Linked DNA regions of Homo sapiens: regions 2, 3 and 4 are each reported to be linked to region 1. Evidence: microRNA targets listed by miRTarBase, many of them from high-throughput screens and not tested one by one. Region 1 holds a microRNA gene; each other region holds the end of a gene's coding sequence. Distances are between the middles of the regions.
What was found. The annotated mature microRNA hsa-miR-3929 reads GAGGCUGAUGUGAGUAGACCACU and lies in region 1 at 2,923-2,945, shown strand. An mRNA with a match to its seed (bases 2 to 7 or 8) in the 3' UTR can be bound and repressed. Matches are read on the target gene's strand: a 7mer-m8 pairs with bases 2 to 8, a 7mer-A1 pairs with bases 2 to 7 and ends in A, and an 8mer does both.

Region 2: miRTarBase lists ABHD15 as a target of hsa-miR-3929. The part of its 3' UTR that is shown has no 7-base or 8-base seed match.
Region 3: the mRNA of RNF125 is a reported target of hsa-miR-3929. Seed matches in the 3' UTR shown: 7mer-m8 at 4,952-4,958, 7mer-m8 at 4,687-4,693 and 7mer-m8 at 3,858-3,864.
Region 4: miRTarBase lists EIF4A3 as a target of hsa-miR-3929. Seed matches in the 3' UTR shown: 7mer-m8 at 6,474-6,480.

What each region holds. Positions count from the first base shown.
Region 1 is chr18:35,929,085-35,937,032 of GRCh38, reverse strand. MIR3929 (microRNA 3929) reads left to right here and starts at 2,891; the gene lies at 2,891-2,945.
Region 2 is chr17:29,555,456-29,563,403 of GRCh38, reverse strand. ABHD15 (abhydrolase domain containing 15) reads left to right here. Exons shown (of 2, transcript NM_198147.3): 2 at 318-2,857. The coding sequence ends at 843. Among named protein-coding and RNA genes, the nearest start is that of ABHD15, 7.6 kb to the left of the region's middle.
Region 3 is chr18:32,067,166-32,075,113 of GRCh38, reverse strand. RNF125 (ring finger protein 125) reads right to left here. Exons shown (of 6, transcript NM_017831.4): 6 at 1,895-6,816. The coding sequence ends at 6,730. Among named protein-coding and RNA genes, the nearest start is that of RNF138, 21 kb to the left of the region's middle.
Region 4 is chr17:80,128,575-80,136,522 of GRCh38, forward strand. It overlaps EIF4A3 (eukaryotic translation initiation factor 4A3), which reads right to left. Exons shown (of 12, transcript NM_014740.4): 10 at 7,654-7,761; 11 at 7,430-7,557; 12 at 5,795-6,932. The coding sequence ends at 6,916. Among named protein-coding and RNA genes, the nearest start is that of EIF4A3, 15 kb to the right of the region's middle. RefSeq lists a silencer at 4,984-5,149.

The DNA.
Region 1 (7,948 bases):
AGTGGTTCAGCTAATGTCAGCATTCAAGGGCCTAAACTTCCCAAACTGACTACAGCTGCTCTAGAGCTTACTTACTACTGCTAGGAAAAAGCGTCATACCTCCCAGCAAACATAGATATTTTTCTTTTTCAGATAGTAAGATACAGGTTGAGTTGAGTATCCCTTATCTGAAATGCTTGAAACCAGAAGTGTTGCAGATTTCAATATTTTTCAGATTTTGGAATATTTGCATTACATTTAGTTGTTCAGCATCCCTAAGTCAAAAAATCTAAAATTGGAAATGCTCCAATGAGCGTCTCTTTTGAGCATCATGTTGGTACTTAAAAAGTTTTGGATTTTAGAGCATTTCAGATTTCAGCTTTCCAGAGTAGGGATACTCAACCTGTAATAATTTTAACCTTGGCTGACAGAATGCTCGGAGCTAAATTGTATGTTCCAACCTAAGAGTTATACTTCACTGATGTTTTCTGATATATCCATCTTTTCCCCTGGATAATTAACTCTTATTTTATTATCCTAATATATAGGTATTTTGTTGTAAGCCATGTGAAATCCTTATAGAAGTAAGCAGTGCGTGAGTAGAAAATGATGCGTGAATTATTAGAGGTGTCATTGCCCCATGAAAATATACAACCTATGTTGGTTATATAGTCGTTCCTGAACACAACATCTTTCAAGGCCAGGATTTCTAAAACTCATTACATGAGTAGTTGGTAGTTTCCATTCTCTTTTGTTTAATATTTCAGAGGATATGTAGTATTTTAGTGAGGAGGTTTTGGGTGCAGGGTACTAAAAACCTAATCCAATGCACAGGTTTGAACATTAGATGGGATTCACTAAGTTTTTGCGACACAAATGCTTGGTGGGCTCCAGGTGTGGTTTGATCAGGGTTCTGGTTCTGTCTTAACTTCTCTTAGTTTCTCTTGCCCTGTGTGGGCTTTGTCTTCAGGCTGGCTTTCCTCGGCAGGGCAGGCCTGCCAGTTGTCTCTGATGAAGACATACTCTCTCTGCAGGAGTTCATCCCTGAACAAAATACCACAGCAAGGGGAGTGGGGGATGCCCTGATTGGGCTAGACTGGTCAGGCCCGGGCTGATGCTGGGATGCACGGGGGAGTCAACCCCACACAAAACCCAGGTGCTTCACAGTGGGGGTGGGGTGGGGTGGCAGACAGGAAGGGAGGTTTATTCTCACTCCATTGACAAGGCTGATGAAAAGAACCACTAGGAGAAGAGCTACTATAAAACTCTGCACATATAATTATTAGGGATGAACAATGCCAGGTTGTGCTTGATGGGCCTTCTAAGTCCTTTTGGAGCCCTCTCACTTTCTGGTAAGCCTTTAGACAAAATCTGCTTTGCGATGCCTCTAGAATGGGGCAGGTGGAAAGCTTCCTGCAATTACATTCCTTTTATATAATGTTTCTCCACCAGAGGTTTGCAGTTTTATAGGATTCACCTGCCAATTGGCAACTGATTTGAGACACGTTAGTGCATCAGCAGAAGTGGGGGACATGCCGAGGGAGCAGCCTGGTGCTTGGCGGAATGTATCCTCTAATCACTTTTCGCCAGAAAGACCCTTAAAGCAATTATACGCTTCTGCAAAGAGAACTGGAAAAGGGTTCTGGATACTTTCTCCTCTTAATTAACCAAAGAATATGCCAATTCTTTTTAGAAAGTAAACTTTTTTCCCTAGTAACTATATTGTCCCATATCTGGTTATAATTTGTGTCTGAAGTAAGTAATTAATAGAGGACTGCCAGAATTTATGAGAATAAGAAACCCCATGAGTTCACGCGTGCACACACACACACTCAGAGGACATTGATATAGTTTGGATACTTGTGCCCTACAAATCTCACGTTGGAATGGCAACCCCAATGTTGGAGGTGGGCCTAGTGGGAGGTGTTTGCATCACAGGGGTGGATCCCTCTTGAGTGGCCTGGTGCCATCCTTGCAGTAATGAGGGAGTTCTTGCTCTACCAATTCGCCCAAGATCTGGTTATTTAAAAGAGCCTGAGACTTCCTTCTCTCTCTTGCTCCCTCTCTCACTACGTGATATACTGGCTCCCCTTCACCTGCTGCCATGATTGGAAGCTTCTGAGGCCCTATGCTTCCTGTATAGGCTGCAGAAGCATGAGCCAAATAAACCCCTGTTCTTTATAAATTACCCAGTTTCAGGTATTCCTTTATTGCAAAGTAAACAGTCTAAGAAAACTGCTGTTTTCTTTACTTGTAATGTGCTTTTCACTGCCTAGCTAAAAGGAGACAATGGCCTCTGTAAAGCACCTTGTCATGGACAAGTGATGCTGGCATATCATTATAATTGTGACCTATGAAATCTTTGCCTATTCTCAGGTTTCAAATATTTTTCTCCTGACAGTTCTATATAGTATACCCTGCTTATCTGCTGGGGACATATTCCAAGACCCCCCAGTGGATACCTGAAACCATGGATACTAAAGAACTGTATATATACTGTGTTGTTTTCCTATATGTATTATTATAAAGTTTAATTTATAAATTATATTATATTATATATAATATTATATTATTATAAAGTTTAATTTATAAATTAGGCACAGGAAGAGATTACAGCAAATTATAATAAAACAGACAATTATAATGATATGCCAGCACCACTATTCTTGCACACTGGGGCCATTACGAACTAAAATAAGGGTTACTTGAACATCAGCACTGTGATGTCACGGCAGTTGATCTGATAACCCAGATGGCTACTAAATGACCCATAGGCAGGTAGCATCTACAGTGTAGATCCACGAGACAAAGGGATGATTCACATCCTAGGAGGGACGGGACAGATGGCCTGAGATTTCATCATGCTACTCAGAACAGCACACAATTTAAAACGTATGAGTTGGCCAGGTGCAGTGGCTCACACCAGTAATCCCAGCACTTTGGGAGGCTGATGTGAGTAGACCACTTGAGCCCGGGAGTTCAAGACCAGCCTGGGCAACATGGCGAACTCCTATCTTTACAAAAAATACAAAAATTAACCAGGCGTGGTGGTGCATGTCTATAGTCCCAGATACTCAGGGGGCTGAGGTTGGAGGATTGCTTGAGCCTGAGAGACCAAGGCTGCAGTGAGCCAAGACTGCGCCATTGCACTCCAGCCTGGGTGACAGAGTGAGATTCTGTCTCAAAAAAATTTTTTTAAAAAGGGATGAATTATTTATTTCTAAAATTTCTCTTTTAGTTTTTTGGATGTGAGTGGATGATGAGCCACATGTCCCTTTGGTTGGCTGAGGGTAACTGAAACCATGGAAAGCAAAACTGTGGTTAAAGGGGGACTACTATAATTTTAGCTGTATTATGTTTAGGTCTATCATCCATATTGAATTAATTTTGTGCATGAGTTGAGATAGGAATTGAGATTCATTTTCTTCCCCATATGGATATCTATTTTTCCAGCATCATTTCTAGAAAAGCGCTTACTTTTCCCATTGGAGCTTCGGTGGCTTTGTCAGTCATTAAGTAACCTTATAGGTGTGAGTCTAGGTCTAGGCTGCCTGTTGTGTTTTATTCATGTATTTGCATAAACTTGCTTTGTGTACATTAGCTTGGCTACTGGAGCCTCAAACTCAGGTTGTGGAAGTCCTCATATTCTGTCTTGTCAGTATTAATTTAGAGATCCTAGGACCTTAGTATTTCCATATAAATGTCAGAATCAATATGTCAGTTTCTCTGAAAACTTGACCTAATTATCAGTCAGATTGCATTGAATCTATAGATCAATCTGAGGAGACTGTATATTATAAAAGCATTGGGTTTTTCAACTTATGAACATGAAATGCCTCTCCATGTATTTAGGTCTTCTAAATTCATAGTTTTCTGCATAGAGTTATTAAATACCTTTTGTTAACCTTATTTCTAAGTATTTAATGTTCTAGATATCATTATAAATAAAATTGGTTTTTAAACTTTTTTTTTGCTGGTAGTAAATCGAAATATAATTGATTTTTTCAGATTGATCTTGTATTCTGTGACCTTGCTATTTTTACATAAATTCCTCAGGATTCTCTTTGCAAACAATGATGTCATTTATACACAAAGGGAGTTTTACTTCTTAATTTTCAATCTTTATGCCTATTATTTCATTTTGTTTTATTTTACTGCCTAGGACCTCCAGTACAATGTTGAACAGAAGTGGTGACAGTAAACATTTTTAGCTTGTTCTTGATAATAAAAGAGGACAATATTTCACCATTATCATAAATGGCAGTTGAACTTAGGGAAATAATGTTTCTGCTTATGAAATGATTACATATTTGTCTTCTCTTTCGTTTTGTTAATATGGTGGATTACATTGACAATTTAATATGTTAAATCAACATTGCACTCTTGTGATACACCTACTTCTTCATGGAATATGAACTTTTGCATGTATTTTTGTATTTGATTTGCTAGTAGTTTGTTTAGGTTCATGAGGGATATTCTGTAGTTTTCTTTTATTGTAATATATTTGCTAGTTTTTTGGTATCAAATTTATATAGGCCTCATAAAAGTGATTCAGACAGTGTTCTCTTCTCTTGTGTTTTAGAAAGAGTTTGTCTATATTTGATGTCATTTCTTTCTCAAATGTTTGACAGAATCAACAAAGAAACTATCTGAGTCTAGAATTTTCTTTGTGTGAAGATTTTTGATAATACGTTCAATTTCTTTACTAAGTATAAGGCTAGTAACATTTTTTCATTGTGTGTTATTTTTATTTTTCAAAGGATTATTCCATTTTATCCAAATTGACAAATTTATTGGCATAAAGTATTCATATATTGCCTTATTATGTTTTAAATGTCTATTGGCTCTATACTGGTGTCCCTGATTTCATTCTTGATATTGCTAATTTGTGTCTTCTTTTTTCCTTTCTTCGTCCAGGTAGAGGTATATAGTTTTTATTCGTATTTTTAAAGAACCATATTTTGGCTCTGTTATTTGTCTGTTGTTTGTCTGCTTTCTCTTTCATTAGTTTTGGCTTTATTTTCTCATGCCTTAGCATTTCTTATAATGTAGATCTGCCAGCAATGAACTCAGGTAGTTTTTATTTGCCTGAAAATATTTTTCTTACTTTCATTCTTGGAGAATATTTTGTTTGGATATCAAATTCTAGGTTGACAGTGTTCCCCCTACCCCCGCACTTTAACTGTGTGGTTCCATTATTTTCTGGCCTATGTTTATCTGATGAAAAGTTGGCCATCATTTATATTCTTATTCCCTTCTACGCAATTTATCTTTTTTTGAGATAGGGTCTCCCTCTGTCACCCATGCTAGAGTGCAGTGATGTGATCTCAGCTTACTGCAACCTTCACCTCTCAAGCTCAAGCGAGCCTCCCACCTCAGCCCTCCAAGTAGCTGGGACCACAGGTGCATGCCACCACACCCGGCTAATTTTTTTATTTTTAGTAGAGATGGGGTTTTGCTATGTTGTTCAGCCTAGTCTCAAACTCATGAGCTGAAGCGATATGTCTGCCTCAGTCTTCCAAAGTGCTGGGATTACAAGCATGAGCCACCATACCCAGACTTTAATTTATCATTTTTATTTGGCTGGTTTTTTTTTTTTTTTTTTTTTTTTTTTTTTTTCACAAATGGGGGTCCACTATGTTGCTCAAGCTGGTCTCGAACTCCTGGCGTCAAGCAATCCTCCCACCTTAGTCTCCCAAAATGCTGGGATTATAGGCATGAGCCACCATGCCCAGCCAATAATTTTTTTAACCTCTGATTTCAGAAGTTTGATTGTAATGTATATGCACACATACACACACACATATGTGTGTATATATATATATGCATGTAGAGATATACATGTGACATTGACAATTTTAATATGTTAAATCAACATTGCATTCTTGTGATAAACCTACTTGTTCATGGTGTTTTTTCTGAATATATTTTTGTATTTGCATATATATTTGTATTTGCATATTTTTTGTATGTATCTCCACATAGCATATATGTGTGTGTGTGTGTGTGTGTGTGTGTGTGTGTGTGTGTGTATATATATATATATATATATATATACATATTTATTTATTTCACTAAATTTGGGGACATTTTGGCCCTTGTTTTTCAAAAAACCTTAATTTTTGCTTCATTCTTTCTCTCTTTTTTTGGAGACCCAATTATATTTATGTTATACCTTTTGATATTATCCGATAGGTTAAATTTTTTTCTTGAGATTGAATTATGTTGATTAATCTTTTTTTCAAAATCACAGGTTCTTTCTTCTAACATTTTCAATATTCTATTAAGCCCATCCAGTGAATTTTTTATTTTACATGTTGTAATTGTGAGCTTGGTATATTTAATGTTTCTATTTCTCTGCAAAGATTTCCTATTTGTCAATTCATTAGGAGCTTATTTTCTTTGCATCTTTGAACATAGTTTCATTTGCTGCTTTAAAAATCTTCATCTGTTAAATCCAACGTGTTGGTTATATTAGGATCAATCTCCATGGGCTGCCTTTGTCTTTTGTATATGGAGTGCCATTTCCTGTTTGTGTGTGCATGAGTGTGCACACACACTCACCTGTATGTCTAGTGATTTTTATTTTATTCTGGACATTGTGGACAACGTGCTATACAGCCTATGGCTTCTCTTATGGTTCCTCTGAAGAGATTTAAATTTTTGTTTTAGGCCAGGTGCAGTGACTTACACCTATAATCCCAGCACTTTGGGAAGCCAAGGTGGGAGAATTACTTGAGCGCAGGAGTTTGAGACCAGCCTGGGCAACACAGGGAGACTTCCTCTCTACTAAAAATTAAAAGACAAGTTAGACATGGTGGCATGTACCTGTAGTCCCAGCTACTTGGGAGGCTGAGGCCAAGGATTGCTTGAGCCCATAAGCTTGAGGTTGCAGTGAGCTATGATTGTGCCACTGACCTCCAGCTTGGGTGACAGAGCGAGACTTTGTGTCAAAAAAAAAAGTTCTATTTAAGCAGAAAATTAACTTGGTTGAACTCAAATTCCAAAAATCTGTCATAGCTGTGGTGAGAAACAGCTGACATTTTGTCTAATTCTTTTAGTCTTACATAGGCTGCTTGAAGTCTGTCTCATACATGCATAGTTCAGGGGCGTTGAGAGATTTACAGAGTTTATATTCTGAATTTGGAGCTCCTCTTCCATGGCTCTCTCCTTTTAATGCTTTCTCTCAGCACTTTTCAGCTGTGGTGATAGCTCTGAGTTTTATCCTTTGATTTCCCCAAGCCAGTAAGACTGCAAGTTTCTATTTGATTTCAAGATGCCCTGGGAGGTGCCAACTGGGATCTTGCTGCCTTCAGGCAAGAAGCTGTGAAAACAGAAAACTCATTAGTGTGGGTCACTTCTTTGAAGGGCAGACTCCTGTCCAGTTTCTGTTTTCTTTTGGTCCCCTTTCAGTGCCTTTAGATTGTTATTTTTAGATAGTTTTAAAAAATATTTCTTCCAGAATTTGTAGTTGTTATCTGCAGATTGGTCTTACACAGACTTCCCTACCATTACCATGTCAGTTGTCTTTTGACTTTGTTCATGATGTTTTTTAACATTCAGACATCTTTTATTTTTATAAATGTAAATTAATCAATATTTTCTTTTATTGCCTCTGGATTTTAGGTCACAGTTCTTTCTTCACACCCAAGTTAAACAGAAATTCACCTATGTTTTCTTCTAGTGCTTGTATGGATTTGTTAAAAATTTTTACGTTATTTTCCTAATATATTCAGAGTTTGTGTATAAAGTGTGAGGTATAATTTAATTTTATCTTTTTACAAATGGTTAATTAGTTGTCCCAAGGCTATTTATTAAAAAGTCCATCTTTGTCCTAATGATATGAGATGTAACCTTTATTGTATTCTAAATTTCCATGTATACTGTGGTCTATTTTGAAATTTATATTCTATTCTGTCCACTCACTGGCATCTCACTGTTTTAATTAAAGAGGCTTTAATGTATGTTT
Region 2 (7,948 bases), not on the chromosome of region 1:
TTTTTTTTTTTTTTTTTTTAGAGATGGGTTTTCGCCCTGTTGCCCAGGCTGTTCTCAAACTCCTGGACTTAAGTGATCCACCCACCTCGTTGGCCTCCCAGAGTGTTTGGATTACAGGCGTGAGCCACCACAACCAGCCTTATCTGGTTTTAAATGATGGCCATGAAATTAAACGTTTTCGAAGCCCTAAATGGCCAAAGAAAGCCTCTGTGGACAGATCTGGCCTGCGGGCTGTCTGTCTGTCTCATCTGCTGTCACCTGATGTTCTCATTCTTCCCTCTCTTTCCCACCTTCCCCACTAAACACCTCGCTGCCAGGTATGCCACAGCCCTGGAGGACACTGTGGACACCAGCAGACTGTTCAGGAGCCGTTCCCTTCGAGAGTTTGAGGAGGCTCTCTTCTGCCACACCAAAAGCTTCCCCATCAGCTGGGATACCTACTGGGACCGCAACGACCCGCTCCGGGATGTCGATGAGGCAGCCGTGCCTGTGCTGTGTATCTGCAGTGCTGACGACCCCGTGTGTGGACCCCCAGACCACACTCTGACAACTGAACTCTTCCACAGCAACCCCTACTTCTTCCTCCTGCTCAGTCGCCACGGAGGCCACTGTGGCTTCCTGCGCCAGGAGCCCTTGCCAGCCTGGAGCCATGAGGTCATCTTGGAGTCCTTCCGGGCCTTGACTGAGTTCTTCCGAACGGAGGAGAGGATTAAAGGGCTGAGCAGGCACAGAGCTTCCTTCCTTGGGGGCCGTCGTCGTGGGGGAGCCTTGCAGAGGCGGGAAGTCTCTTCCTCTTCCAACCTGGAGGAGATCTTTAACTGGAAGCGATCATACACAAGGTGAAAGACCTGGCCTGAGAACCCCCAAGTCCTGCAAAGAAAAACAGAGCTGGGCAAGGGGGAGTCCTGGAAAGATGGGGCGGACTGAACAGAGGGAGCTCCAGCTCTGTGCTCCTCATTCAGTCCCTCTCTCTTAAATTGGTGCCTTGAAAGAGAAGGAACGTCCTGCGAGCCTGCACTCACTTCATCCTCAGCAGAACTCCTGCCTGGCCTCTGCTCAACATATCCCTACTCATCCGGTCAGCAGCGGCGCGTTCCAGTCACTGTCACCTGTCACTGACATCACAAGCCAAAGGATAGCACTTTTTCAATCCATGGACTCAGGAGAAAATGCCCTCTTACTGGCAGTGGCTAGAGGGATGAGACGTTTGTGTATGTCACTGGGCAGTGACCCCGATTCTCAAGCTGGAGCCATTTGATGTCATGAGGACAGGATGTTTGTGTCTCGGCCCCACTTCCCTCATTTGCTCTGTGGTTGTGGCGCCCTGCTTTGACCGAATGCTCTGGCAACTGCGGCAGCAGGCTTGTGTGTGTGAGAAGGGCGGCAGAGGCAGTGGGGCTGGCTCGCTGAGGGCTGAGCAGGTAGAGAATGTGAATGTCCATCTCAAGGAATGCGAAGTTCCAATCTCTCAGAGGAGCTCTGCAAGTCTCAGCTAGGAATGGGGCTGATCTGGCCCCCAAGCCTCACTGGAGAGATCCCAAGGGTATTTTACAAATAGGAAGCGCTCTCATGCAGGATCTGAGGGCTTTGCTAGACCATGGTTCAAGGAGTCAGAATCTTGGCTACCCTACATGCTCCCTCTGGCACCATTTCAGGGGATTACTCCAGAGAGCTGCAGCCAGAACTGTTTATCTCCTGAGATATGGACTTTCTCTAAGTCAGGAAAAGCACAAACCTCATAACTTAGGTGTTTTCTGGTTGGTTGCTCCCTTTTCTGATCCTACTACTGGCCTCTCCCTTTCCAGAGCCAGGAGACACATCTGGGACCAGAGGAAACAAAAGCACCAAGAGGTTGACTAGAGCTGACCAGTGATTTACAAATATTTCATATTCCAATGCTTCGTCTGCTCAATTATTCAAAAGGCCATCCCTGTAAAGGCAGAAAAGCTTCCTCTTAGATCTGGCCACTCAGCAAATAAGTGGGTATTTGGTTTTATGAAGAATAATGCTGAGGACTAGAGATATAGTATATCAGAGATAATATATAGTATACAGGTTGATCTAAATATTCTGGTTTGGATTAGGCAATTAAAATTTTTTTGGCAACAGGACATATGTTTCCATGTGTTGCTAAGATTCAAAAACTTTGCCCTGAAGTTTTATTTTAATCGTCATTGAGAAAGAGGGCTCCTGTTCTGACCTCAAAAACAGCAAAGCTGTTGTAAAGAAGAGAGCTGCTTATACGAAAACCCACATTCCAAGACTTGGTATAAGGTATTCCTGAGGCCTTGATTTCAGGTTTGGATAATCTTGCCCCAGATTCTAGATCTTGTTCTTCTAGATCAAATCAGAAGAAACTTTGAAATAACTCCAAGAATCTGCACTGAAATGTAGACAGCACTCGATAATCTAAGGGACATTATCTTGTTGTGAAAAATTATCTCCCTCCTGGCTGGGAGCGGTGGCACACACCTATAATCTCAGCACTTTGGGAGGCCGAGGTGGGTGGATCACGAGGTCAGGAGATCGAGACCATCCTGGCTAACACAGTGAAACCTCATCTCTACTAAAAATACAAAAAATTAGCCGGGCGTGGTAGCGGGTGCCTGTAATCCCAGTTACTCAGGAGGCTGAGGCAGGAGAATGGCGTGAACCCGGGAGGCGGAGCTTGCAGTGAGCTGAGATCGCACCACTGCACTCCAGCCTGGGCGACAGAGTAAGACTGTGTTTCAAAAAAAAAAAAGAAAAGAAAAATTATCTCCCTTCTCCCCACTTCTTGTTTCTCCTCCTCCATATTCCTCATCTGACGTTCTTTTGCCGTTTCTAAGCAGGATAAATAAAAAGGAACTGAAATTAAGCTGCTCTACTGCCGGTGAACAACAGCCTTGGTGTAAGCCTTGGTGAGGGAGATTTACTGCCATCTGGCCATCCGCTACCACCAGCTGCCCTCCACATCTGGTACAGTGAGGATTTCAGTTAATTAGGGTCCCGTAGTCCCAGTTGCCCTGCAAAATGGGAAGCAGCCTAGTGGTTTTTAAACCCTAAGGCTTAAAGAGTCCCTAAGGGTGAAAATCTGCATAGTTTCTCTAGAAACTATCCAGATAATGCAAGATTCTGGTTCTTCAAGAGAATAGCTTTTGGAGAAATAGTGGTTGGTTTTCCTTTCCCTTTTGATAGGAAAGAAAGTTTTCCAGGGAGAGAAATGTATAAACTTTGTAGTTACAGTCAGAAGAATGGCAGAATCAGCCCCAGTTCACGTTCCATTAATTCCTTTGAACCCTGAACTCTAGTGACCCGAACCCTAAAGTATTTCTCTTCCGTGGCCCTTGTGCCAGATGCACCCACTGCATATCCCAAGAACATTCTCTGATTTTCCCATTACTACTTGAAGACTAGGGCTGAAATGCCTGTTTTGTGCTGAGAAAGTGTAATTTCTGTTCAAGCAGGAAAGATTTGGATGGCCCTGTCCTTTAGCCTAATGATTCAAGAATCACACAGGTGAATTCTGCTTTGGTAAATAGCTAATTGTGTGAAGCCAGCTGGAGGAGCCCCAGGCACACTGTTCTGTGAATGGGTGGCCCTTGAACAAAATGGCAAGTTATGAGTTTGAGGAAGCAAGAAACAAACAACAAAACCAAACAATAGGCGGGGCACAGTGGCTCTCACCTGCAATACCAGCACTTTGAGAGACTGAGGTGGGAGGATCACTTGAGGCCAAGAGATCGAGACTAGTCTGGCCAACATAGCAAAACCCCATCTCTACAAAAAATTAAATTAGCTAGGCATGGTGGTGCACCCTGTAGTCCCAGCCACTCGGGAGACTGAGGCGGTAGCACTGCTTCAGCCCTGGAGGTCGAGACTTCAGTGAGCCCCTCCCGAACACCTAAGAACCACTGAGTTGGACTTTCCAGGTGGTGGGTCTTCAGTAATCTTCAGGCCTCATTACTTGCTTGCCTCCTTTTTGGTGTCCGTTATTTACCAACACCTTCAAATGGTAAGATAAAAAAATGAATACAAATAAGGAAACGAGCCAGGTGCAGTGACTCACTGCAAAGTGCAGTAATCCCAGCACTTTGGGAGGCCGAGGCAGGCAGATCATTTCAGTCCAGGAGTTCAGGACCAGCCTAGCCAACATGGTGAAATTCCATCTGAGTGTGGTGGCACACGCCTGTAGTCCCAGCTACTTGGGAGATTGAGGTGAGAGAATCGCATGAGCCTGGGAAGCAGAGGCTGCAGTGGACCGAGACTGCGCCACTGCACTCCATCCTGGGCAACAGAGCAAGACCCTGTCTCAAAATCATAATGAAAACAATAAAGCAAAAACAAAAAGCCAATGACTAAAGGGAGGCATTAATTCAGAAGTGGCAATTGAGTCCTCTGTCTCTAGCCATGGATCAGAATGCAGAAAGCAGACAACTGCTTCTGAAATTTTCTGTGAGTTCTAAGTTCTGATCTCTGATATCAAGATTGTGCTAAGCTATAACTTAATTCTCATAATTTAGTATTTTATGTATTTATACATAGATTTCCAGGGTGGCTTGGCTGGAGATGACAGTATGAAAAATACAGCACTAAATTCTCTGAGAAGACATCATCTCTGTTTTGAGTGACGATATCCTAAGACTTGGATACTGATAGAAAATAGGTCTTGGCCGGGCGCAGTGGCTCACGCCTGTAATTCCAACACTTTGGGAGGCCGAGCCGTGTGGATCACCTGAGGTTGGGAGTTCGAGACCAGCCTGACCACCATGGAGAAACCCCGTCTCTACTAAAAACACAAAATTAGCCAGGTGTGGTGGTGCATGCCTCTAATCCCAGCTACTTGGGAGGCTGAGGCAGGAGAATCACTTGAACTCGGGAGGTGGAGGTTTCGGTGAGCCAAGATTGCGCCATTGTACTCCAGCCTGGGCAAGAAGAGCAAAACTCCGTCTCAAAAAAAAGAAAAAAAGAAAGGAAATAAAGAGAAAGAAAAAGAAAGAAGAAAGAAAGAAGAAAGGAAAAAAAGAAGAAAGAAAGAAAAAGAAAGAAAGAAAAAGAAAGAAAGGAAGGAAGGAAGGAAAGAAAGAGAAAGAAAGAAAAAGAAAGAAGGGAAGGAAGGAAGGATGGAAGGAAGGAGGGAGGGAAGGAAGGAAGGAAGGAGGCCTTGGCCAGGCATGGTGGCTCACACCTGTAATCCTAGCACTTTGGGAGACTGAGGTGGGTGGATCGCTTGAGTCCAGGAGTTTGAGACCAGCCTGGGCAACGTGGTGAAAACCTGTCTCTACAAAAAATACAAAAATCAGCTGTGTATGGTGGTGCATGCCTGTAGGCCCAGCTACTAGAGAGACTGAGGTGGGAGAATCACTTGAGCCTAGGAAGTCAAGTCTGCAGTGAGCTGTAAACATGCCACTGCACTCTAGCCTGGGCAGCAGAGCAAGACCCTGTCTCAAAAAAAGGAAAGAGAAAAGGTCTCAAAACAAGGAAGTGTCACCTTGGCTTTATACATAACCTCAGAACCACCTAGAGTCAGAAACTCCTCTGTACTCATCTTCCATCCCAAACCACAAGGTCCTTTCTCAATCAGTCACCTTTAGTAATGAATGCCAAGGTATCTTCCTTTAGAGATGAATTTTAGCATGAATTCCTCTCCCTGCTTAAACAAGCAGATACACTTGGCCACTCTGGTAGAACTTGGTAACAATGCCAATAAAAGGAGTATTTGTGATTCTTCAGTCAAGCCAGAAAGGATGACACCAGAAATTGCTTTGACTCATTATCACAATTTGCAGAGATAAGAGTGCATTCAGGAAGGCTTGAGAAGTTATACATAGGGAGTGTCCAAGTACTCAGAGATTAAATGAATGCCTCAGGAAACAGTAAGTCTCACATCATCAGTGGGATATTCAAGCTAGACTGCCCCTTGGCACATATCATGGAGAGAACATGTGGCAAGAAATGAGGATGAACTAGATCAGATATCCAGTTTCTTCTCATCTAAGGTCTGTGAATTAAAATAAATAATGCTAATGATCTTAGTGTTTGTAACAACTTAAGGTGGGTTTCTGGGCTCAAGGATCAGAAAACCACAGACCTGACTAGGATCCTGGGAGTTGAGAGATAACATAAATTTTAATGAAAATAACCCTGCCAAAGTGACCAGAGTGAGTGTGTGTGTCTGTGGTTTTTGTTTGTTTGAGATAAGGTCTTGCTCTGTCACCTTGGCTAGAGTGCAGTGGTGCAATCTTGGCTCACTGCATCCTCAACCTCCTGAGCTCAAGCAATCCTCCCGCCTCAGCCTCATAAAGTGATGGTACTACAGGCATGAGCCACCACCATTCCCAGCCCAGAGTGTTTTGTTTTGTTTAGAGAAAGGGTCTTGCTGTGTCACCCAGGCTGGATTGCCCAGTGGTGTGATCATGGCTTACCACAGCCTCGACCTCCCGAGCTCAGGTGATCCTCCTACCTCAGACTCCTAAGTAGCTGGGACTACAGGTGTGCACCACCATGCCTAGCTAATTTTTGTATTTTTTGTATAGATAGGGTTTGTTACTATGTTACTCAGGCTGGTCTCGAACTCCTGGGTTCAAGGGATCTTTTCACCTCGGCCTCCCAAAAGTCTGAGATTATAGGTGTGAGCTACCACACCTGGCATCAGAGTATATTTTTAAGATAGCCAATGATTATGCTCTAGTCGCACTTGCTCAGAGGAGCTAAAGGTTTTTTTTTATTGTTGTTTGTTTGTTTGAGACGGAATCTCGCTCTGTCGCCCAGGCTGGAGTGCAGTGGCACCATCTCGGCTCACTGCAAGCTCCGCCTCCCAAGTTCACGCCATTTTCCTGCCTCAGCCTCCCGAGTAGCTGGGACTACAGGCGCCCGCCACCACGCCCGGCTAATTTTTTGTATTTTCAGTAGAGACGGGGTTTCACTGTGGTCTCGATCTCCTGACCTCATGATCCGCCCACCTCGGCCTCCCAAAGTGCTGGGATTATAGGAGTGAGCCATCGCACCCGGCCGGAGCTAAAGTTTTGAAGGTAAAATGATACTTCATTGAAACAATAAGACACTCATGCATCAAAAGTAAGTCTCTAGTCCCTCTAGTCTTACCTTGTAATAATGCAATACCTTGCCTTAGTATTTAGTATGGTTGAACAAAAAATTTCTCTCCAACTTATTTGTCTCTGAATAGTAAATCAGTCTCCCAGTAACACTGGAATGTTATTATTTTTTAAATCTCCAGAAACAAATATGTGCTGTTTGTCTTCTGAAGTCTTCTGTGTACTAAGCCATGCTTGCCTACTGTGGCGTTTAGCAGAGCCTCAGTGCACATTCTCTAGCCACTGGATGTTGCCTCACTTTTGTAGATCTAGCCTCGTGTGGCCTAACACTAACCAGCAGCAGCTCTGTTTAATCAATAACCAGGTCTCCTGTTCTGGGCTAATAATTTCCCAGCAGGCGCACAATTCCCTGATCATTGATGGTGCCTACAACAAATATATTATTCAGTGGGCAAACAGTGTTTGTGTGTTGATAGGATACTGAAGTAATAGTTTGGAGATGTGGGTTCCAGTTTCTACTTCATCTATGACTTAAGTGACCCTGAGAAAGTTATTTTATGAGTTGTTCCATATGAAAAGACTGGGAATGTGTATAGGCCTTAATTTATAAGGTCTGTTAGGATATAATGAGATACTTAATAGCAAACAGATCCCATTCTCCAAGACTCTAATTCCTCAGCCATAGCTCAAAGACCTCCATGATGAAGGGGCATCTGCTTTCAAATCACAGTCTTTATTCTCTGATCAACATCTTATAAGGCTAAGAAGTTCCAGTTATTAATTGCACTGCAAAGTTGGGAAGGGCCTGGAAGAGCAGCACCTTTGAGCCTCACAGGTTGGGTTTGGGTTGCCCAGTTGAGGACAAACTCTCCCCATCCCCACCCCCATATATGTACACACACACTGATACTATG
Region 3 (7,948 bases), 3.9 Mb from region 1:
AATTTCAGAGATTCTGTACATCTGGAGAGGGCCCAGGAAAGTGTAATTATAACAAGTATCCCAAGTGGTTCTGATGGCGGCACACAAGGAGTACACTGAGAAAATACTGTTGTAAGGGACAGAGAACATATTTGGCATTTTTGTTAATAAATAAGAAAGAACAATTCAAAAAAAGAAATCACTATCTTATGTCTGAGAAACTGACAGTTCTTTCATTTTGTAAAATAATCCCAAACTTTAAGTAAAATTAATGAAAATATTACCATGGCAGGGCCAGGCGTGGTGGCTCACGCCTGTAATCCCAGCACTTTGGGAGGCCAAGGCAGGCGGATCATCTGAGGTCAGGAGTTCGAGACCAGCCTGACCAATATGGTGAAACTCCGTCTCTACTAAAAATACAAAAATTAGCTGGGCATGGTGGTGCATGCCTGTAGTCCCAGCTACTCAGGAGACTGAGACAGGAGAATTGCTTGAACCTGGGAGGTGGAGGTTGCAGTGAGCTGAGATCGTGCCACTGCACTCCAGCCTGGGTAACAGAGCAAGACTCCATCTCTAAAAAAAAAGAAAAGAAAAAGAAAATACTACCATGGCAAAAATGAACATGACTTCATGTTTTAGAAAGCTAGTCTCATTTTGACTTTTCACCCCTCCTTTCCACACATATTTTTAATGTCTTTACCCTGTGTACTTCCTGTCTTGTCAACTCTGCCTGGCTTGTACCTTCATGGTTGGTATTACTATTATGCCTCAGTATCCAGTTGTCTTCTACATGAGAAGACTGGATTTCCTCAGTGCCTTGACATTACATATGGCCATGTGACTTGCATTGGCAAATAATGAACAGAAATTACCTGTGTAGCCAACTCAGCAGCCTGTTGCGAGGGGTGATATAGGAACACACAGTGATATACAAATGCCATGAGATGAAAGTACCCTGGAATTCTGAAGCTGGAGAACAGCTTCCCTGGAGAAGAGCCAGGAACCACAGTAGACTTTGGGTGAGCACTGGGATTTGGGACTTGTAATTGTACCATAATCCAGTTCACCTAGATCAATACTACTCCCTGTGATTCTCCTTCGTTGGGCTTCTTACATGGCTATTTTGGTGGCAATGATTAGCCTTAAGATCCATGCATTGTCTTTGCTGAAATCTTTAGGATTAAAATACCACACGATTTTCTAGTAATAATACAAAAACATAACTATTAGCTTCAAGGATCTCAGACATGAGTGTCCCTCTGTAATATTTTGTCTTATTTCAATAAAGATAATCTAAATGATGAAGGTAAATCTTCTCAACTGATCTGGGTTCCCTCAATCATCTAGAACGTCACTCAGCAAACAGGCATCAGAGGTTTCGTCAGTAACACTTGTGTTCTGTCCTGTATGTGTTCTTGCAAAAAATCAAAAAATTAATATGCTCATGACATATGGGTACGCATGACAGCTACAGCCATTCAAAACTTAGTATGGATTTAGCAGGGGGAAGAATCTATCTACATCTTACCTTTTAAATTTCAGTGAAGCCTCTTGCTAGCAGAACAAATAATAAATCCATAGTGCTCAGTATTATGTTGACCAAATCAGAGTTTCTAAGCCTAGGCACTATTGCCATTTTGCGCAGGATAATTCTTTGTTGCAAGGGGCTGTCTTGTGCACTGTAGAATGCTGAACAGCATCCCTGACCTGTATCTAGATCTCAGGCCACTAGCACACCCAAGCCCTGTTAGGACAACCCAAAATGTATCTAGACATTGCCAATGTCTGCTGGGAGACAAAATTACCCCCAGTTGAGAAGTACTGGCCTAAATGAATGTACACCTTTGTGATAGATGTTGCTCAATGATGAAAATTTAAAAAGCATTATTAAATTTGAGTAAAATAGTAATCAAGATTAATGTTTAAGAATAGACACAGTAGATATTTTAATAAAAACAATGGTCCTGCCATTTTTTATTTATCATAGCAATACATACTTACAGAAGAAAAAGAATCACACATTTTAAATTCTGATCATTACACTATTTTTTTGTAGTTGAATAATAAAAGAATGAATCTCTTAGTGACTTTTTAAAATACCTTCAATGTTGGAAAAATGCAAATTATGATATGATAAACATTCAATAACTGGAGTAAGTTCACTTCCAAATGAAAGACACTTGGCACCCAGTAACAGTAATGAAATTAAACATCACTGAAGACAGTAAGGAGGTCTGCCTGGAGGTCTCTAAGGAGGTCTGCCTGGAACCATATCTTTAGTGTAGATTCACAATCAATCCAATCTTTCAACCTACATTTTAATAATTTAGCTTTAGAAGAATAACATGTGAATCAGTTTTTCTCTAATAAGGCCCTGAAAAAGTTGTATCCTGAAGCACTATAAAGAGAGTGAAACTTTTTTGTTGGTAATCAACAGCTTCAAATATTGGTTTTTATCAACGAATTATAAATACCTTTTTATAAAAGGCCAAAGGCACAGTAAAACAATGAGTATTTGTACTTTACCATTTTAGAGCTCAAAATAATTCAGAACACAAAATAATTCAGGCGACCAGCACCTAATCTGTCCTGTAGGTGGCAAAATTATCATAAAAGGAATCCAGGCACAGGAGTCAGAATTGCTGCACTGAGGTTAATAGTGACAGATGACTTAAAGCTTTATCCGACATACAATTTTTAACTTTTTCAAGTTTTATAGATTCAAAGTGCCTTTTGTATCGCTCTGAATTAACAAAAGTTTGTCTGCATGGTCAACACCAATGCTTAAAAATATGTTTTCATTTCTCAGGCTCTGGACTTTCAGTCTGATGATCATTTCTTTTTATGATTATTCCTGAAAAATTCCTCTCCTTTTTCTCGTTTCCCAACAGATTTTGCTTTATTTTTATTTATATTTAATTATTTATGTTTTTGGAGACAGGGTCTTGCTCTGTTGCCCAGGCTGGAGGGCAGTAGCATGATCATAGCTCACTGCAGTGTTGACCTCCTAGGCTCAAGTGATCCTCCAACCTCAGCCTCCTTAGTAGCTGAAACTAAAGGTGTGCATCATGCCCAGCTTTTTGTTTGTTTGTTTGTTTGTTTTTGTTTTTGTTTAAATAGAAAGAGTCTCACTATATTGCCCAGGTTGGTCTTGAACTCCTGGGCTCATGAGACCCTCCACCTCAGCCTCCCAAAGTGCTGGGATTATAGGTGTGAGCCACTGTAACCAGCCAGATTTTGCTTTATTGTATGATCCATCTAAATTGAAGAAAGAGAGGTTGTGGAACTAAAAATCAGTTGTTACTTTTTAGCAGCTGTGAAAAGCAAACTTAAAATCAATATCTAAAAGGGAGGATATGAGGCTCACTAGATTTCATTCAGCTTTACATTTTCCCAATTATTTGTACTGGATAAAAGAACTGTAGCAAGACCTTTAAGGAGTTACAATAACTTATAGAAAATTTTGGGTACCATGGTTATGACTATGCTTATATGTAAGGAACAAAGAAGTTTATAAATGATTACAATTAAAAAGCTAACTCTAGTCAAGTAACGTTTTATCCTCAGGAGTTGATATTACTTATTTTCATGGCTTCTTTGCATCCTTACAAGATGGAGATACTAATCTATGCCCTGGATTCATAATTAAAGAGTCAGATATGAGAAACAGTCAGAGCCATCAAATAAAAACTGGGGGCAATTGCCTGGCGCGGTGGCACACACCTGTAATCCCAGTACTTTAGGAGGCCAACACAGGTGGATCACTTGAGGTCAGGAGTTCAAAACCAGCCTGGCCAACATGGCAAAACCCATCTCTACTAAAAATACAACAATTAGCCGGGTGTGGTGGTGCCCACTTGTAATCCCAGCTACTCGAGAGGCTGAGGCAGGAGAATCACTTGAACCCGGGAGGCGGAGGTTGCAGTGAGCCAAGATCACACCACTGCACTCCAGCCTGGGCAACAGAGCAAGATTCCTCCTCAAAACAAAACAAAACAAAACTGGGGGCAAGTGTTAAATATATAGTTGAAGAACTAAGAATAAATGGGGGATAAAAGGAAGAAAGTACAGTATGCTATACCAGTATGTTCTGAAAATGTTGACATAGTATAACTATTTTAAAAATTGGGATGTCGGGCGCAGTGGCTCACACCTGTAATCCCAGCACTTTGGGAGGCCGAGGCAGGCGGATCACCTGAGGTCGAGAGTTTGAGGCCAGCCTGACCAATGTGGAGAAATCCTGACTCTACTAAAAATACAAAATTAGCAGGGCGTGGTGGCGCATGCCTATAATCCCAGCTACTCGGGAAGCTGAGGCAGGAGAATTGCTTGAATCCAGGAGGCAGAGGTTGCAGTGAGCCGAGATCGTGCCATTGCACTCCAGCCTGGGCAACAAGAGCGCGAGACTCCATCTCAAAAAAAAAAAAAAATTGGGAAAGAATGAGAAAAGCAAATGAAAACTTTTTAATTGTTTCAATTGCCATATTATTTGTGGTTGTATTTCTATTGTTATTCTGAGACAGCTGTAAGTGTAAGATAAATAAAAGAAATGAGTAATTGTGGGATGTTCTAATTCTATCGTGCCCTGTGTTCTTGAAAACCAGGACTTTCAGTACAGAAGGAGAGGTACAGTTGTAACAGAAAGGTTAGATAAAAACCCTGTAGGCCGGGCACAGTGGCTCACGCCTATAATCCCAGCACTTTGGAAGGCTGAGGTGGGCGGATCACAAGGTAAGGAGTTTGAGACCAGCCTGGCTATTATGGTGAAACCCTGTCTCTACTAAAAATACAAAAATTAGCTGGGCATGGTGGCTCATGCCTGTAATCCCAGCATTTTGGGAGGCCAAGGCTGGTGGATCACTTGAGTTCAGGAGTTCAAGACCAGCCTGACCATTATGGTGAAACCCCTCTACTAAAAATACAAAAATTAGCCGGGCATGGTGGCGTGCACCTGTAGTCCCAGCTACTTGGGAGGCTGAAACAGGAGAACTGCTTGAACCCGGGAGATGGAGGTTGCAGTGAGTCGAGATCGTGCCACTGTACTCCAGCCTGGGCAACAGAGTGCAACTCTGAAAAAAAGAGAAAGAAAAGGAAAGAGAGAGAGAGAGAGAGAGAGAAGAAGGAGGAAGGAAAGAAAGACACCGTGATTTACAGTCTTGCCAAAGGACTGAACCTAAGTCTTCTCAAATTCAATGTGCCTGAACCTGCACTGTGTGCTAATATCGAGAGGACAGGGCAATGTGCTGAACCGTGCCATGAGTGTGCAATCAGCAAAATACAAAGTATGGGAAACTCTATAGGTCCTAGGATCAGGTTCTTCACCAGGTAAATTTTAAGGAACTGGAAAGAAGGAGGAACTTCTAGATTAAAAAAGAGATGTAAAATAAAATATACATTTAATAACAACTTTAAATTGATAATATTAAAATATAGATATATGCATTTAGGTGTGGCAGCAGTAATCAAATGCAACAAAGTGATTACCATTTAAATCAGTCTAGCAGTTACTTTTGTGGGGTTGTAATTGTGACAGGACACAAAAAGGACACGTGGGGTGACTGGCTGAGTCCTAAAAGAGTATTTCCTTATAATAAGGCATTCAGCTATAAATTTTGTGTCTGGTTTTCAGTACTTTTATTTCATAATTTTTAAAATGTTACAATCAAAAAAGATATCAAAGCCCTTAGGGTTTTCTACTAAAAAGTCTGGATGTGAATACTTATACTGTAAGTATCATCTGATGGTTTTTAAGAAATTGCTTATATTATAGAAATATTTCTAAATAAGCTATAAATATTTGAAAAATATTGAATTCTTATGTATGCAGTTATAAAAAGTCAAAGAATTAAGTATACTTTTCTAACACAAAATTTGTTTTGTTACAGTATTATGTAAGACAATTTGGTTAAATGGATTTTTTTTTTTTTTTTTTTTGAGATGGAGTCTAGCTCTGTTACCCAGGCTGGAGTGTACTGGTGCGATCTCAGCTCACTGTAACCTCTGCCTCCCGGGTTCAAGTGATTCTTCTGCCTCAGCCTCCCAAGTAGCTGGTATTACAGATGCCCGCCAACACGTCCAGCTAATTTTTGTATTTTTAGTAGAGACGGAGTTTCACAGAGACCAGTGTTGGCCAGGCTGGTCTCGAACTCCTGACCTTGTGATCCGCCTGCTTCAGCCTCCCAAAGTGCTGGGATTACAAGCGTAAGCCACCGCGTCCGGCCTAAATGGACTTTCTTGACTTCCAAAATTTTCCTTTCCAACTCCCATACAAGATTATTAACGTTAACCTATTAGAGATTAGAACAAGAGCATTGGAGCAGATTTCTTATTTCTTTGAATGTCTGCACTTTGTTTCACTCTCCATATTTTTTTACACAGAACAAAGATTAGTTATCGTGCCTAACCATGATGGTAGTTATTGATATGTAGCATTATACACAGAGTATTATCTAATTTGCAAACCGAGATCCTCCACCTACTTGCCTACCACCTGTCTTTTCCATGTAACAATGACTGATGTAGATAATTTTTTTTGTTGTTAGATGTGTAAGAATCTCAAGGATGTAAAACAGATTTAAACCATTAAAATTAAAGCAGTTTTTAAATGCACTATAACAATAAACATGGACAAACACATAACTGTGTTGTACATTTTTGCCCATCAATCATTGACAACTTCCCTCCCATTTGTTCAAGCAGCATCTTAAATGGTGCAATTCAGTGGTCCCTTTTCCCTTCGTTTTAATAAAATTATGTGGTGTTCGAGTGATTCACATATTCAAGAAGTGACCGGTCTAAGACTCTTCGGATAAGAGCTTCCTCAATTATATTAAAATCCTACAATAAAGAAAAATAATTAGAAATATTCAGAGTCAATAGTATTTCAGAAACTAGAGGATGAGGGTCAATGCAACACCCTCATTTTGTAGGGAACTAAAGTTACGAGACTTGTCCAAGGTTCCACAAAGCCTGTCATAGAACCCAGGACTTTTGCTTTGGGGCTAATGAATTTTCTACTTCACTTTGTTGTCTATCGATTAACTAGTTACTGTCATAATAAACAGTCTTGATTTGAAATTTGAAGTTTTTATCTGATATAATGAGAAGTTTTTAGTCACCATTACAAATCCTGGTCAGAGTGCTATGTTCCACATAAACCTGTAAAATGGAGCAAAGTTCAGGCTCCCCCACAGGCTTCACCAATGCCAGCAGTACCACTGAATGGCTACTTCTGAAGAAAATGTTAAAAACAAAACTTTCTCCTTGCCTCCTATGTGTCAAAGTGGAATTCAAAATTCTATGTCAGCACATTCTATAAGTAAAACAAAAACCATTAAGAACCCTATCCTCTGCAATCCCTCTCCTCTTCCGCAATAACAAAAGGTGAAATCTCTATTCAAAGTCCATTCTGCAATATAAAAACAAAACAAAAAAACCCCCACAAAATCCAAAGGAAAGTCATAAAGTACAGCAGAACACAAGGTTTGGTCTTGATACTGGCTTGTTCTTAGATAATTCAGTTAACCTTTGAGCTTCAGATATTTCAGTTAAATGAAGATAAAAATACAGTATTCACTTCACGGAAGTTGCTACAAGGAATAAAATGTGATATATACATATAGTGCTTAGCTTAGTATATAGTAGCTCAGGAAGCAAAAAATCAAAACAAAGAACACTACTTCCAGTTCACTTCCCTACCCAAGAATATGGCTGTGAGTGGCTGGAAAGTATTCCTATCAAAGTGGCTTCATCCTGCCTAGCTCTGGATCATGCTTTGTCTGAAAGATCTTGAGAACAGACTGAGCATGATTAGACAGAACAGCCATAGAATCGACCTGGCTTTTAGAACACCTCATAGAGCTAAGGTAAAGAGAAACCTCTTGAGACGGAGTCTCGCTCTGTCACCCAGGCTGGAGTGCAGTGGCGCGATCACGGTTCACTGCAAGCTCCGCCTCCCGAGTTCACACCA
Region 4 (7,948 bases), not on the chromosome of region 1:
CCTATATTTCCTGTATTTTGAAGCTGTTATTAGGTGCATAGGTATTTAGTATTGTTATATCCTTTTAATGAATTACCCCTTTATCATTATCAAATGACTCTCTTTGTCCCTTGCAATATTCTTTGCTCTGAGATCTCCTTTGTCTAATATTAATAGAGCTGCTTCAGGTTTATTTTGATGTGTGCGTTACCATGGTGTATTTTTCTCCATCTTTTCACTTTTGTCTTTATATTTCTCATAAGCAATAGTATATAGTTGTGTATGGCTTTATAATCCAGCCTAACAATATCTGTCTTTTAATTTTGCAGTAGGCAATTTGCTTGTTTTCCCTTGCTCGTGCTTTTTGCTTTTTAAGTGTAATTTTAGAGGATGCATGAGATTCCTCATGATATTTGTGCTGAGATGTAATTCACATGCCATAACATTTACCATTTTAAAGTATGCAATTCAGTTGTTAGTACACTTGTACAACCATCACGATTATCTAATTCCAGAACATTAGAATCACCTTCAAAAGAAACCCTATACTCATTTTCAGCCACTCCTTGTTTCACCCATCCCCCTCCTCCCCCCTCAAGCTCCTGAAACCACTGTGAATGGTTTCCTGCTAATCTCTCTATGGATCTACCTGTTCAGGACGTTTCATGTAAATGGAATCACACCACGTGTGGCCTTTTGTGTCTGCCTTCTTCCACCTAGCATATTGCCGAGGTTCATCCAGGTTGTAGTGTGTCAGCACTTCATGCCTTTTTATTGCCAAGTAATATTGTGTGGATTCACCAGTTTTGCTTACAGCTGATGAACATCTGGCTTGTGTCCACTTTTTGGCTCTTATGAACAATGCTATGAACACATTAGGTTTATGTGTGCAGATTTTTTAATTCTCTTGAGTATAGACCTAGGAGGAGAATTGCTAGGTCAACTCCTATGTTCAACATTTTGAGGAACTGCCAAGCTGTTTTCCATAAAGGCTGTGCCTGTTTACAATCCCACTAGCAATGTATGGGGGTTCCAGTTTCTCCACATTCTCCTAAACACTGCAGAGCAGTATATTAGTCCATTTTCATATTGCTATAAAGAACTGCCTGAGCCCGGGTGCTTTAAAAAGGAAAGAAGTTTAATTGACTCACAGTTCAGTGTGGCTGGGGAGACCTCAGGAAACTTACAATCATGGTGGAAGGCGAAGACGAAGCAGGAACCTTTTTCACAAGGTGGCAAGAAGTGCCAAGTGAAGTGGGAAGAGCCCCTTATAAAACCATCAGATCTTGTGAGAACTCACTATCACAAGAATAGCATGGGGGGAACTGCTCCCATGATTCAATTACCTCCACCTTGTCTGTCCCTTGACATGTGGGGATTAGGGGGATTACAATTCAAGATGAGATCTGGGTGGAGGCACAAAGCCTAACTAACTATATCAATCAGTTTGGGAAAGTTATCTTCCAATCCATGAACCTGGGACATTTATATATTTAGGTTTGCAATGCCTTTCAACAAGCTATTTGTAGTTTTCGGTGAACAAGTATAGCCCTTCTTTTGTTAAATTTATTCCTACATATTTCACTCTTTTTGATGCAATTGTAAATGGAATTATTTTCTTAATTTCATTTTCAGGTTGTTCAGACTGCTAGTGTACAGAAACACTGGCTTTCCTATGTTGAACATATATTCTGCAACCTTGCTGACCTCATTTATAAGTTCTGATAAGTGATTTTTTAAATGTGTAAATTCCTTAAGATTTTCTAGGTATAAATCATGTCATCCGTGACTAGAGAGTTTTGATTCTTCCTTTCCGATCTGGATGCCTTATTTCTTTTCTTGCTTAATTGTCCTGGCTCGTAACTTCCAGTACAATGTTGGAATAGACGTGGCAAGAGCATTCTTGTTTTGTTCCCAACCTTAGCGGGTAATGCTGTGGTTTTTCATCGATGCTGTTTATCAGGTTGAAGCAGCCCCCTTCCATTCTTATTTTCTATCTTGAAAAGGTGCTGGATTTTGTCCAATGCTTTTTCTGCATCTGTAAATCATTATGTGGACTTTGTCCTTTATTCTATTGATAGGGTGTATTACATTGACAGATTTTTGGATATTAAACCAACTTTCCATTCCTGCGATAAATCCCACTTTGTCAGTGTACAATCCTTTTTATATGTTGCTGGATTTGTTTTGCCAGTTTTTTGAGGATTTTTACATCTATATTCATATGATATTGATCTAGTTTTTTTTGTGGTAGCTTTGTTTTGGTATCAGGTAATGCTGGCCTCAGGGTGAGTTGGGAAATGTTCTGCCTTATATTTTTTGAAAGATTTCGTGATCCAGCACTTTGGGAATCTGACGGGGGCAGATCACAAGATCAGGAGTTTGAGATCAGCCCGGCCAACACAGTAAAACGCCGTCTCTACTAAAAATACAAAAAATTAACCAGATGTGGTGGCAGGCACCTGTAATCCTAGCTACTGGGAGGCTGAGGCAAGGGAATCACTTGAACCCAGGAGGCGGAGGTTGCAGCAAGCCAAGATTGTGCCACTGCACACCAGCCCAGGCAACAGTGTGAGACTCTGCGTCAAAAAAAAAAAAAAATTGTGATGGTGATAATTCTGTAAAAGTTTGGCAGGATTCACAAGCCTTGGCTTTCCTTTGTTGAAAGTTTGGTTACTGATTTAATCTGTTTGTCCTAGGAATTTCTCCATTTTATCAAGGTTCATCTGTTGGCAAACAATCCATGGCACTGATACTTTGTATTCTGTACAGTCGGCTGTGCCATCACCTCTTTCATTCTTGATTTTAGTTATTTGAACCTATTTTTCCTTAGACTTGCTAAAGATGTGTCAATTTTGTTGATCTTTTCAAAGAATGAACCGTTGGTTTTGTTGATTTTCTCTATTATTTTTCTATTCATTTATTTCTACTCTCATCTTTATTATTTCCTTTCTTCTGCTTCCTTTGGGTTTAGCTTGCTTTTCTTTTAGTTTGAGGTGAGACAGACAATCTGCAATAAATGTAATTATTGACACGGTTGTTTTCAACCTACTACCGTTTTGTATTTGTCCATCTCGTAAGTTCTCTGTTCCCTTTTCCTTCCTTTTCAGGATTCTTAGATTAAGTATTCCTTAGAACTCTTATTTTGTCTCCTACGTTGGCTGTTTATTTCTGTTTCACATTTTTGTATTGCTTTAAAGGTTCATACCTAAAAATTGCTTAACACTTTTATATATGTTTCACATCTTTAATTCATCACAATCTGCCTTCAAGTAATAGTGTAAGAATCTTGACAGTATACTTCCATTACTCCTTTCTTCGGTGCTGTGCTATTTTCGTCATACATTTTATGTCTATGTATTATTTTAAACAATCTTACTACAAAGAAACATGCCAACAGCATCAACATTACCATTCTATTTCTATACTTTAGACATACCTCAAAGGGTCAGGACACTCTAGCTCTTGGTTAGAACCCTTTTTATGTGGTTTTTCTTTTAGGAAAATTGCCTGGCTTTAAGACAAGGCATCCTATATGTATTTGTTGAATAAATTTCAACCACCCAAAAAAAAAAAACAAAACAAAAAAAAAAAAAATATACCATTAGGAGTATAAATTGGTGGAAAATCTTTCTGCAACGTTAATTTGAAACATGTACCTTGATCAAGAAAATCACTTCTAAAGATTATTCTGGGTGGGCACAGTGGCTCATGCCTAATCCCAGCACTTTGGGAGACCAAGGCAGGAGGATCACGTGAGGTCAGGAATTTGAGACCAGCCTGGCCAACATGGTGAAACCCCAACTCTATTAGAAATATGAAAAATTAGCCAGGTGTGGTGGTGGGCACCTGTAATCCCAGCTACTCAGGAGGCTGAGGCAGGAGAATCGCTTGAACCCAGGAGGTGGAGGTTGCAGTGAGCCGAGATCACACCATTGTACTCCAGCCTGGGCAACAAGAGCGAAACTCCATCTCAAAAAAATAAACAAATAAAAGATTATTCTAATTAATCTTCAACTGCTTCCAAAGGAGCCATGGTATAGAGGCTGGAAAAGTAGCTTTTTTTTTTTTAACGTAGTGAAATATGTATGATACATTACTAAGCAAAAACCTGAGTTAATAATGGCAAAGTGGGTTACAATTTTTGCTTAAAAAGGTCTTTATGTACAGGTAGATGTACAAGATAAATTAAAATACTGGATGGACAGTCATCAAATTGTGAGTTATATCTGGGTAGGAGGATTAAGGATGACTTTTTCAAATTATGCATTTGTATGTTTTTTTTCAGTGAGATTATACTTTTGTAATGAAGTACATAACCCAGGGGTTTTTCATCTGGATTTAGTTGCTGGGGACCTTGGGAAGCCCCTCAGGATCTAGAGCCAGTTTTTCCACCTGACCAGAGGCCCAGTGATACCTACCTAGCAAGGCTCAGCAGACCCCCTGCCTGAACTTGACTCCATTTGGACTCTGGGAGGATCCTGGCCCCAAACCACCCTCCCAAGAACCTCCATGAGTTCTCTACCTCTTGTATCCTTCTCTTCCCAGCATCACTGCAAATGTTCCACCCTGTCCCGCACCATGCCCCCATCCATGAGCACTTAGCATCCTTCCCTGGTATAGGCAGGAGCAACGCTGAACTTCCTGGAGAAGTCCACATTCCAGTCAGCTGTCTACAGCAGAACCACACACCACCAAAGGGAAATAGCATTTTCATCACTGACTGCCCAAGGGCCAGGCTGCTCTCCAGAAAGTCTGGAAACTTTCCTTGTCAACCTTTAGGACTGGTGGTTTTTAAATCTTGGATAATCACATACCATTTCTGATTTGTCAGTACAGTTTGACATTTTTATGAACACTTGTGCTGTATTTTTCCTTTTAGGATGACCTTTCCTAGACAGTGTGTGGGGTAGCTTAAGCCCCACCCCTTCTCCTGCCATCTCCTCCCCAAGGCACCAATGCTGCCTCCTCCACTGTAACACCACGTGCTTATTCATCTAGAATCATTCTTACTGGTAATGGAGGCCTTCCGTCCTCCGGAGTGACTGTGTGGAAACCTGAGCCACTCCTCACCTCTAACACAAGCCTGGCAGCAGCTCCTGATGAGACCAGGTGAGCCTCAGTGAGCTCAGGCGCCTGCAGATACGGACATTGAGGCTGGCACTGGCCAGAGCTGTGGTGGGCATCACTCCCCACTGCTGCTGAGCAAATGCCCTGAACACACCTGTATCTGGTTCCTCCTTGCCAGGAACTCATTAAGCTGCCTGGGCCTGTAGTCTCGTGCTCCTCCCGCTCGGCCAGCAGTGCCACCTGGGAGTCTTGTTACCTGCAGGTTCTCACTCAGCAAGCCAGGACAGGGCCCGAGCACTTGCATTTCTAACCAACTCCTGATGATGCAGCTGGTCTACCAGCCACCAGCTGGCTAGCAAGGGTCCAGTCACAGTTTCAGTGAAAGGAAGTTCCATTCATAAACTATAGAATTTCAGATGCCTTCAAGTAGAATCACCTGATGAAATTTAAAAATTATTTCCAAGCTCACCCTAACCCGGAAATAAAGATTATCATCCCAACTAATTTCAGGAAGGGAGGGGCCAGTTTTAACATTTCCATTTCAAATATTAGAGCCCGGTCTGTGGCTCATGTGTGTAATCCCAGCACTTTGAGAGGCTGAGGCGGGAGGACTGCTTGAAGTCAGGAGTTTAAGACCAGCCTGGTCAACAGAGGGAGACCCTGTCTTTAAAAACATTTAAAAAATTAAAAATTGGGCAGCTGTGGTGCTGTGTGCCTATAAAGCTACAGGTAATTACTTTAAATATTTCAACAGATAACTTAAATACTTTAATAATTTAAATATTTAAACAGATAATTATCTGTTTTAGTTTGTCAACATTGTGGTAAGTCATGATCCTGCCACTATACTCCTGCCTGGGCGACAGGGAGATCCTGGGCTCTCAAAAAAACAACAAAAAAAAAAAATTAGAAAAATGAGGCCAGGCATGGTGGCTCACACCTGTTATCCCAGCACTTTGTAAGGCCAAGATGGGAGAATCACTTAAACCCATGAGTGACAGACCAGCCTAGGCCACAAAGTGAGACCCTGTCTCTACAAAAAATTTAAATATTAGCCAGATGTGCTGGCATGCACCTGTAGTCCCAGCTACTCAGGAGGGTGAGGTGAGAGGATCGCTTGAGCCCAGGAGGTTGTGGCTGCAATGAGTTGTGATGGTGCCACTGCTCTTCAGCCTGGGCAGCAGAGCAAAACTCATCAACGATGAAACTCTTTCCAAAAAAAAAGATTAGAAAAGTGAGTGAAATGGGCCGGGTGCAGTGGCTCACGCCTGTAATCCCAGCACTTTGGGAGGCCGAGGTGGGTGGATCACGAGGTCAGGAGATCGAGACCATCTTGGCTAACACGGTGAAACCCCGTCTCTACTGAAAATACAAAAAAATTAGCCTGGCATGGTGGCGGCCGCCTGTACTCCCAGCTACGTGGGAGGCTGAGGTAGGAGAATGGCATGAACCCAGGAAGTGGAGCTTGCGGTGAGAGGAGATCACGCCACTGCGCTCCTGCCTGGGCAACAGAGGGAGACTGTCTCAAAAAAAAAAAAGAAAAAGAAAAGAAAAAAAGAAAAGTGAGTGAAATGACCCAAGACTACACAGTAAGTTACTAGAGAAGGTGGTGGCACCTTAGAAGTATAGAGTTTATGGGAAAAGTTTTAAATTTTTAATGAAAAAGACTTAGAACAATGTATTATTTACATGTAAATAAGAAAAGAGAGCAGAATCCCCATATCCTCTTCAAAGGAAGGGAGACGGCAGGCCATTTATGAGAAGAAAGTCCATATAAACCCCATTAAGTAGAATCTGGATCTAAATACTTCCAAACAGGAGTACACAGCAGGTGAACAGTCTCCCTCATCCCACTGATCTGCTGCTTCAGATAAGATCAGCAACTGAAAGTGAAGAAAGAAACAGATTAAGGAACAACACAAACAAAATGAAAATTTGTTAACGTAAATTTAACTAAAACCTCACAACAGACTTCTCAAAACAAAAAACAGGCCAGACATAGTGGCTCACGCCTGTAATCCCAGCACTTTGGGAGGCTGAGGTGGGCAGATCATTTGAGGCCAGGAGTTCGAGACCAGCCTGGCCAACATGGTGAAACCCCGTCTCTACTAAAAATACAAAAATTAGCTGGCTATGGTGCACGTGTCTGTAATTCCAGCTACTCAGGAGGCTGAGGCAGGAGAATTGCTTGAACCCAGGAGGCAGAGGTTGCAGTGAGCCGAAATCGCGCCACTGCACTCCAGCCTGGGTGACAGAGCGAAACTTCGTCTCAAAAACAAAACAAAAAAACCCACAACAACAAAAAAACAAACTCAGGTGCCCCAAACTAAGAATAGGGAAGTTCCCTCTACAATTACAGTAGAGCTGGACGATTTCCTACCGTTCATCGGCATCTCATCAATCTGAGTGGAATAGTACTGCTCGATATCTCTGAGGATGCGGATGTCGTCATTCTTTACAAAGTTAATGGCCACACCCTTCCGGCCGTATCGACCTGATCTCCCAATTCTTCAGGAATAAAATAATATTACAGTTAGTATATATAACAATCAAGATTTAGTAAATGTGTCACAGAAGTGAAGCCAATGAGAGCTTGCACCTTACCTGTGTATGTACAATTCTCTGTTATTAGGGAGATCATAGTTAATGATGAGGGACACCTGAGGGACATCCAACCCCCTGGCCCAGACATCTGTAGAAATAAGCACTCGGCTGCAAAAAGAAAGAGTGTTTGAGGCGATTAAATTACTCATACAAGTGTAAGACTGGACTTGCTTCCATTGCTAATTTTAAGGAATCCTGGCTGCAGGTCCAAAATATACGAGATTCTCCTCTCTCAACAGTCTGTCTGCAAACGTGAAGCCTCAGGGACAGCACCAGAAACCCCTGTGCAGAGGGG